2 separate regions of the Homo sapiens genome follow, and region 2 is linked to region 1. The links come from fine-mapping of genetic effects on gene expression. A gene starts in region 1. The other region holds a variant in brackets. All regions are shown on one strand. Distances are from middle to middle.

What was found. PIP is the estimated chance that this variant, and not a neighbour inherited with it, causes the effect.
Region 2: its variant is the best candidate, but not a certain one, in a credible set for the expression of HEATR3 in testis (GTEx, PIP 0.80).

The regions. Positions count from the first base shown.
Region 1 is chr16:50,063,811-50,068,203 of GRCh38, forward strand. It overlaps HEATR3 (HEAT repeat containing 3), which reads left to right and starts at 2,160. Exons shown (of 15, transcript NM_182922.4): 1 at 2,160-2,459; 2 at 2,557-2,729. The coding sequence starts at 2,322. HEATR3-AS1 (HEATR3 antisense RNA 1) reads right to left here and starts at 2,514. Exons shown (of 3, transcript NR_186390.1): 1 at 2,243-2,514; 2 at 881-997. RefSeq lists an enhancer at 1,968-2,262 and silencers at 2,113-2,162, 2,493-2,542, 2,623-2,882.
Region 2 is chr16:50,090,916-50,095,308 of GRCh38, forward strand. It overlaps HEATR3 (HEAT repeat containing 3), which reads left to right. Exons shown (of 15, transcript NM_182922.4): 12 at 3,790-3,878. Among named protein-coding and RNA genes, the nearest start is that of HEATR3-AS1, 27 kb to the left of the region's middle. The variant A/C (reference allele first, on the strand shown) is at 1,865.

The DNA.
Region 1 (4,393 bases):
CATGCACCTGTAATCCCAGCTACTCAGGAGGCTGAGGCAGGAAAATCACTTGAACCCAAGAGGCAGAGGTTTCAGTGAGCCGAGATCATGCCATTGCACTCCAGCCTGAGCAACGAGAAAGAGACTCCATCTCAAAAAAAACAACAACAAAAAGACGGTTGCCTGGACTAGGTGGGTGGCAGGCAGATCGATGGCCTGATAAAATATACAGGAAGTAAAACCCACCAACATATATTTAGTGGCTCCAAGGTTGATTTTTTTTTTTTTTTTTTTTTTGAGACGGAGTCTCGCTCTGTCACCCAAGCTGGAGTGCAGTGGCGTGATCTCGGCTCACTGCAACCTTTGCCTCCCAGGTTCAAGAGATTCTCCTGGCTCAGCCTCCAAGTAGCTGGGACTACAGGCACATGCCACCATGCCTGGCTAATTTTTGTATTTTTAGTAGAGATGGGGTTTCGCTATGTTGGCCAGGCTGGTCTTGAACTCCAGACCTCAGGTGATCTGCTCACCTTGGCTTCCCAAAGTGGTGGGATTACAGGTGTGAGCCACAGTGCCCAGCCCAAGATTGATCTTTGATAGGCCCAAATGCAACATGAGCTACACTTCTGTTACTCTCTAAAATTTGCCATAGTAATTAATTTCCCTTACTGGACAGTCAACTCTTTGACAGTAGGGTTACCATGGAATGGAAATTTTCTCCAGTAGAATGTTGACCTGAGCCTGGGCGTGGTGGCTCATACCTGTAATACTAGCACTTTGGGAGGCTGAGGCAGGCAGATCATTTGAGATCAAGAGTTCGAGACCAGCCTGACCAACGTGGTAAAACCCCGTCTCTCCTAAAAATAATAATAAAAAAAAAATAGCTGGGCATGGTGGCACATACCTGTAATCTCAGCTACTTAGGAGGCTAAGGCAGGAGGACTGCTTGAACTCCAAGGCAGAGGTTACAATAAGCCGAGATCGCACCATTGCACTCCAGCCTGGACAGCAGAGTGAGACTCTGTTTCAAAAACAAAAAGAAAAAAAGAAAATTGACCCAAAGCTATGCATATATTGAGTACTCACTCGTTACATGTCTAATTATAAAGACCACCTAAGATTCTCCTGTACTTTTCCCTCTGCTTAGTATTTACCACAATTATAACCAAAGTTATTCATATAATTATATATTCAACAGATCTCTCCCTGGACTGTAAATTCCATAAGGACAGGGAGAGAGGACAGGAACCAAACTGTCTTGATTACTGCTTTATTCCAATGCCCAGCACTGTACCTAGTACTCAACAAATATCTGCAAAAGAATCTCTTTGTTAAATACGTTTCCAAACATTTACATAGTGCTTAGTATCTGCCAGTCTCTGTTCTTAGCACCTTAAACATATGAACACATTTAGTCTTCGTAACAACTCCATGAGGTATATACTATCGATGTCCCCACTTCACTGATGAGGAAACTAAGGCAGGGAGATTAGGTTCTTAAGCGATTCTGTTTTATCAAATATAGACACACATTCGTTCCAAAACATTAACTAGTCTCTGTCTACGACAGGAGCTATGGGAGGTGCTGGGGACACAAAATAAAATCGTGGTTAATGCTTTTTGAGTACCTGCTATATATCAGGCTTGGTGTTAGGCACTTTACAGAACTTTATGAACTTTACAGAACTTACAATAACCTTGCAAGTTAGGTATTCTTAATCACATTTGATTATTTGTAGCCGGTGTTACTAACTTATTGGTTGCTTGATTGATTGATTGAGACAGGGTCTCGCTCTGTCGCCCAGGATGGAGTGCAGTAGCAGGATCACGGCTCACCTCAGCCTCAAACTCCTGGGGTCAAGTGATCCTCCGGCTTCAACGTCCCAAGTAGCTGGGACTACACACACACGCCACTATGCCCAGATAATTTTTAATTTTTTTGGTGGGGAGGACAGGGAGTGGAGTGTTTTCCTATGTTGCCCAAGATGGTCTCGAACTTCTGGCCTCAAGTGATCCTCTCGCCCGGGTCGGCGTTACTATTCTAGTCCAACCTCCTACTTACCCGGTAAACCCACAAGGCTCCGCCCCTTTGCCGAAGCTGGCCCCGCCTATGCCCTCTTCCACGCCTGCGCGCTCCGTGCGCCAGTTCCCCCCACCCCGCCCCGCCCCAACCCCGACCCGGCAGACGACGCGCCGTGCGCCTGCGCACGGCTTGCCCATGTGTGCTGCAGCCGTCAGCCGGCCCAGCTGAGCAGCAGCAACGGACCTTGTTAACGGCGCGGCAGCCTCCACCGCCTGCTGTTGCCCTCCTCTCTCGGTGGTCTGTCCGCCCAGCGCACGTCACCATGGGCAAGAGCCGGACGAAGCGCTTCAAGCGACCTCAGTTCTCCCCTACGGGCGACTGTCAGGCCGAGGCGGCTGCGGCGGCGAATGGGACCGGAGGCGAGGAGGACGACGGGCCGGCGGCGGAGCTGCTGGAAAAGGTGAGGCGAGGGCTCCGTCGGGCCGGGAGGCGAGACGAGGTTGCCCCGCGCGCGTGCGCATTGCGCGCCTTCTGACCCTTTTCGCTCTCATCCGCAGCTCCAGCACCCGAGCGCCGAGGTCCGCGAGTGCGCCTGCGCAGGGCTGGCCCGGCTGGTGCAGCAGCGGCCGGCACTCCCGGGCCTGGCGCGACGAGACGCCGTGCGCCGCCTCGGGCCGCTGCTGCTAGACCCCAGCCTGGCCGTCAGGGAGACTGCAGCCGGCGCGCTGAGGTGAGCCAGGAAGGGTGCGGGGCGGTGCCCACCGCTGGCCTCCCCCGCGTCTGGGCTGCGGGCGGTCGCAGCGGTCACCCAGCGCCTTCTGTGTGCCATCAGGCACTGGCCCGGTCTCCCGTTTGCAGAGATTTGAAGCCAGTCTCCAGGCTCCGGAGAAGCCCAGTATCCCCGCATCTCATCTGTCCACCTGGCTGCTTCACCTGCAGCGTCCACCTGCTCAGGCGTCCTGCCCTCACGCCTTGCGCACGTTTTACACTCTCCAAAAGCCCTCCTTAGGGTCCCTTGCTTGGATGAACTCTTCAGTTCATGTGTCAGGAATCGTTCTAGATGCAGGGGACTTTGAGCAGCCAAGACTTTTGAGCGAGATCTGTTGACAGCCAAGATCCCTGTCTTGGCACAAGTCATGTTGATGGGGAGACAGACAGGAAGCTAGTAAAAAGGTAAAACATAATATTAAATAGTGAGAATTGCTGTGGGAAAACGAGATGATGATGAGTTGGGGGTGGGAAGTTTGAATTGGGTGCTCTTGGGCCGGGCGCGGTGGCACACACCTGTAATCCCATTGCTTTGGGAGGCCAAGGAAGGAGGATCACTGGAGGCCAGGAGTCCAAGGCCAACCTGGGCAACATAGCAAGACCCCGTCTGTAGAAAAATTATAAACAATTAGTCGGGCATGGTGGTGGGTGCCTGTAATCCCAGCTACTCAGGAGGCTGAGGTAGGAGAATCGCTTGAGCCCAGGAGTTCGAGGCTGCAGTGAGCTATGATCACACCACTGCACTCCAGCCTGGGTGATAGAACAAGACCCTGTCTCAAAAAAAAAAAAAGGTGCTCTTTAGATGACTTGTGAAAGGAGATGTGCAGGGTGAGAGAGCCAGGAGGCATGGGAAAATAGGGGGAAGAATATTCCCCACAAAGGGAGCAGCAACAGCAAAGAAGCGAAGCAGCAGGCAGCTTGACGTGGTTAAACAGCAGAGAGGGTAGGTAGGTGGCTGAGAAGAGCAGGGGTGGGTAATTACAGGAAGTGAGGCTGGAGAGAGGGATGAGCTGTACGATGGTGTAGGGCTGAGGACTTAACTCTAAGCAGGGAAGTGACATGCTGCAACACATTTTGTGAAGACCACTCTGCTGGTTGTGCAGAGAATGGACTGCAGAGGGGGCAAGAGTAGAGGTTAGTATTTGTAGTTCTTACAGCTCTGTCTCTGTTTGTTATTTATATTTCATTCACTGATATAGCAAATATGTATAAAGTGCCAACTGTGTGCCAGACACTGAGCTAAGCTGTGGGCATGGGGTAATGAGCAAGGCAATGTCTCTCCTTAAGAAATCTTAAAGTGTATTGAGGGAGACAAGCATTAACCAAACAGTTACATAAGTGTATGATTACAATGAATGGTAATGACAAAGGGTGCTAAAAGAGGGTACAAACAAAGGGTTCAGGGAAGAAGACTGAGTGAGTGGTGCTTGAGGTGAGCTCGGAGGAATGAATGGGCATTCACCAGTTGATGGAGGGGGGATAGACGCTCTTCTTCCTTTAGGGAGGAAACAGCATGTGGAAAGCCCTTCCCTTCCTCCCACAGCATACAGAGGCTGGGGGATCCTGGCACATTGTGAGGGCATCTTCTGACTATCTCCATATCCTTAGGGACTAGCACAGTGCTGT
Region 2 (4,393 bases), 27 kb after region 1:
AGTTGGATCACCTGAGGTCAGGAGTTTGAGACCAGCCTGACCAATATGGTGAAATCCCGTCTCCACTAAAAATACGAAAATTAGCTTGGCATGGTGGTGTGTGCCTGTAGTCCAGCTACTTGGGAGGCTGAGACAGGAGAACTCCTTGAACCTGGGCGGTGAAGATTGCAGTGAGCCAAGATTGCACCACTGCACTCCAGCCTGGGTGACAGAGCAAGACTCTGTCTCAAAAAAGAAATTAATTAATTAAAAATAAGAAAAAAAATTCAGGCTGGGAGTGGTGGTTCACACCTGTAATCCCAGCACTTTGGGAGGCCAAGGTGGGCAGATCACCTGAGGTCAGGAGTTCAAGACCAGCCTAGCAAACATGGTGAAACCCCATATCTACTAAAAATACAAAAATTAGCCGGGCGTAATGGTGCATGCCTGTAATCCCAGCTACTTGGGAGGCTGAGGCAGGAGAATCACTTGAACCCGGGAGGCAGAGGTTGCAGTGAGCCCAGATCTTGCCACTGCACTCCAGCCTGAGCGACAGAGTGATACTCCGTCTAAAAAACATAATAATAATAAAAAAATTTTAAATCAGTCTGAAAAATTCACCTGAGTATAATTACTTGTGGGTTGATGATGTACCTACATTTAGACATGCTACAAATTCTTAAATATTGTTCAAAGTTGGCTGGGCACGGTGGCTCACGCCTGTAATCCCAGCATTCTGGGGGGCCGAGGCGGGCAGATCATGAGGTCAGGAGATTGAGACCCTGGCTAACATGGTGAAACCCCGTCTCTACTAAAAATGCAAAAAAAAATTAGCCAAGTGTGGTGGCGGGCACCTGTAGTCCCAGCTACTCGGGAGGCTGAGGCAGGAGAATGGCATGAACCTGGGAGGCGGAGCTTGCAGTGAGCCAAGATCGCACCACTGCACTCCAGCCTGGGCAACAGAGCGAGACTCTGTCTCAAAAAAAAAAAAAAAAAAATATCGTTCAAAGTTGTTGAGAGTAAAGACATTGAATCACCTCTTTGTGTGCAATTCATAAATCTATAAATTCATAATTTTATAGGGCTATACCTAGAGCTTTAATCATATATACACTTTGCAGTCAATATGGTAACTTTTTGAAGTTTAATAGCAACAAATTGGCTGGACGGAGTGGTGCACACCTGTAATCCCAGCACTTTGGGATGCTGAGGCGGGTGGATTGCTTGAGCTCAAGAGTTTGAGACCAGCCTGTACATATGATGAGACCCTGTCTCTACAAATACAAGAAAAATTAGCTGGACGTGGTGGCACGTGCCTGTGGTCCCAGCTACTCGGGAGGCTGAGGCAGGAGCTGATTGCTTGAGCCCGGGAGGTCCAGGCTATTAACAACTTCACTCTGATTTTTGAGTGCCTGTTAGGTACCACGTTTTATGAGACAGCCCTTGTTACTTCATTGTCCTGCTGAGGAAGCTGAGATTTAGGAACCTTAGCTGAGAGGTTAAGGAACCTCTTCCAGGTCATTCTTTTTTTTTTCTTTTTTCTTTTTTTTTTTTTTTTCCTGAGACGAGTCTGGCTCTGTCGCCCAGGCTGGAGTGCAGTGGCGCGATCTCGGCTCACTGCAAGCTCCGCCTCCCGGGTTCATGCCATTCTCCTGCCTCAGCCTCCTTAGTAGCTGGGACTACAGGCGCCCGCCACCACGCCTGGCTAATTTTTTTTTTTGCATTTTTAGTAGAGACGGGGTTTCACCGTGTTAGCCAGGGATGGTCTTGATCTCCTGACCTCATGATCGGCCCACCTTGGCCTCCCAAAGTGCTGGGATTACAGGCGTGAGCCACCGCGCCCGGCCCAAGGTCATTCTTTTAGCTTGTATTTATTGAATGCTTT[A/C]TGTCATACACTGTTCTAGATGGTAGGGATGCAGGCGTGAACAAGATAGGCCAGGTCAATATGTTCGTGGAGTTTGCATTCTAGTATAAATAAATGTTTTATGTGATATTAGCTATGAAGAAAAAAGTAAAAGCAGAATGATATGAGGCGTTACACTAGGCCAGTTAGTGTGGAAAGGCCTCTGTGAGGAGGTAACATTTGAGCCAAGACTAAAATGAAGGCAGGAGGAGTCACATAATTATGTCAAAGGCAGCTCTCTATCCTAGGGCTGAGTGTGTAAAGCTCTCCTATTATTCTGTGATCATTACGGGAAATCCCCTATTTTGGTACATAATACATATCTGAAAATGAAAGAGCCAAAAAATACAATCAGCCGGGATTAGAATTTGAACAGAAGCTGCCTCTCTTCTACCCGGGTAACCTAAAAGTGGGGGATCGGAATGGTATAAGTCCCAGGAACTGTGGGGCAGGAAGTGAGTGTATCTATTGCTACGTAACAAGTTATTCCAAAACTCTGTGACTTAACAACAACAACAATCATTTATTATTTCTCGAAGTTTCCTTTGGTCAAGAATTTAGACAGGGCACAGTGGAGATGGCTTTTTCCTATTCCACAATGTCTAGGCCAGTGGTTCTCAACCATGGCCACTTATCCCCTCCCACCTCCCACCTGGGGACATTTGGCAACGTCTGGAGGTATTTTTGGTTTTACAACTTGGAAATTGCAACTGGTGTCTAGAGGGTTGAGGCCAGGAATGTTCCTTCACATCCTACGGTGCCCAGGAGACCCCTGCGCACACATAAAATGAAGAATTATCTGGTCCAAAATGTCAGTAGTGCAGAGGCTGAGAAATACTAGTCTAGGGCCTCTGCTGGAAGACTCGCAGAGTATGGGCTGGAATCATCCGAAGTCTTGTTCACTCACGTGTCTGGCAGTTGGTGCAGGGGTTGTCAGGAAGAACACCCACAGTGACCTCTTCATGTGACGCAGGCTTCCTCATAACAGGATGGCTGGGTTCCCAGGGCGGAAGTCGAGAGAAAAAAGAGCATGCACACATGCGTCAGGGCTGGAAGTCATACTGCCTTTTGTGACCTAGCCCGTCACTTTGTATTCTGTTGGTTGAAGAAGTCACAAAGTCCCACCCTGATTTAAGGAAAGGAGAAGTAGATTTCACATCTTTATGGGAAGTGGCAAGGTTCTTGAAGATCACACAGGACTTGAAATATTGCCATGGCCATTTTTAGAAAATACAGTCTACCACACCAAGCAAATCTCTTCCCATCAAAGAGGTTAAGGAGCCAACTCCCCTGGGTGACCCTCACTGTCCCTTGCACGTGCCTGTGCCAGCATAATGGCTTACTGCTGGTGTTCTGTTTGTCCCGTGTGGGAAGAAGGGACAATAAGAAAAGTGTGCGAATAAGGAGTAGGAGTGGGAAGGGGATGCTGGGTCAGTTAAAGTGATGGTGCCATCATGTCCTGGCTCTGCACAAGCAACAGTGTGTGGCTAAGCAGTGGGCTTGGGTTGGCAAGGAAGCATTCTGACTCCACCAAAGGTAGTTCTACCCAGCACCCTGATGGAGATCTATGAATGACAGAATTCAGTCTGCAAAAGCTAGCTTAGGTTTATTATGTGCTGAAGTGTGAGTCAAATGAAAACCCAGTGTCTGGAAGTCAAGGACTGTCTGTAGAACACCTCCTTGCTGTGATTATTTTAACCACGATCATCTTTCAGACTTAGGTATAGAGTGTACAGGGGGCTGTTAACTAAATATTTTGGCTTAAATATCGAGGGTTTTTTTTTGTTTGTTTGTTTTATTAAGAATAGCATTTATTAACATTTAGCATGCTTTGTTTTGTTTGTTGCTTCTACAAAATAGCCTATCTTGGAGAAATGCAAATTTTATATTTCATTTTTGTGTTTTAGATTTTGCTAAACATGTTGACTTTCTAGAAGCCATAAGTAGTGCTTTGAGGGCCCTTTTGCAAACAATGGCCTCCAAGAACATTTCCCAGGTAAGAGTTTTAAAATTTTTTGTATGAAACTTGTAAAGATTGTGTATTATGGAGGCAAAATTCATTACTTCACTATTTTAAAAAATACATATTTCTGTTACAAGAATAATATGTGATCTTTGTAAAAAATAAAACAAAAGTGATTAAAATAAAAAGTAATATCTTTCTGCTCCCTACCATCAGCAACACACAGGTGCTTTTAATTTAATTTTTTAAATTTTTTAATATATAGGCTTACTAGCAAAACAAGTGCTTTTTAATCAATACAACTTAATTGATAGATATGTTGTAAATAATTTCTCTATCATTGGTCTTTTTTTTAAATCTTTTTTTTTTTTGAGACAGAGTCTTCCTCTGTCGCCCAGGCTGGAGTGCAGTGGCATGATCTCAGCTCACTGCAACCTCTGCCTCCTGGGTTCAAGTGATTCTCGTGCCTCAGCCACCCAAGTAAATGGGATTACAGGCATGCGTCACCACAAAATTTTTGTATTTTTAGTAGAGACGGGGTTTTGCCG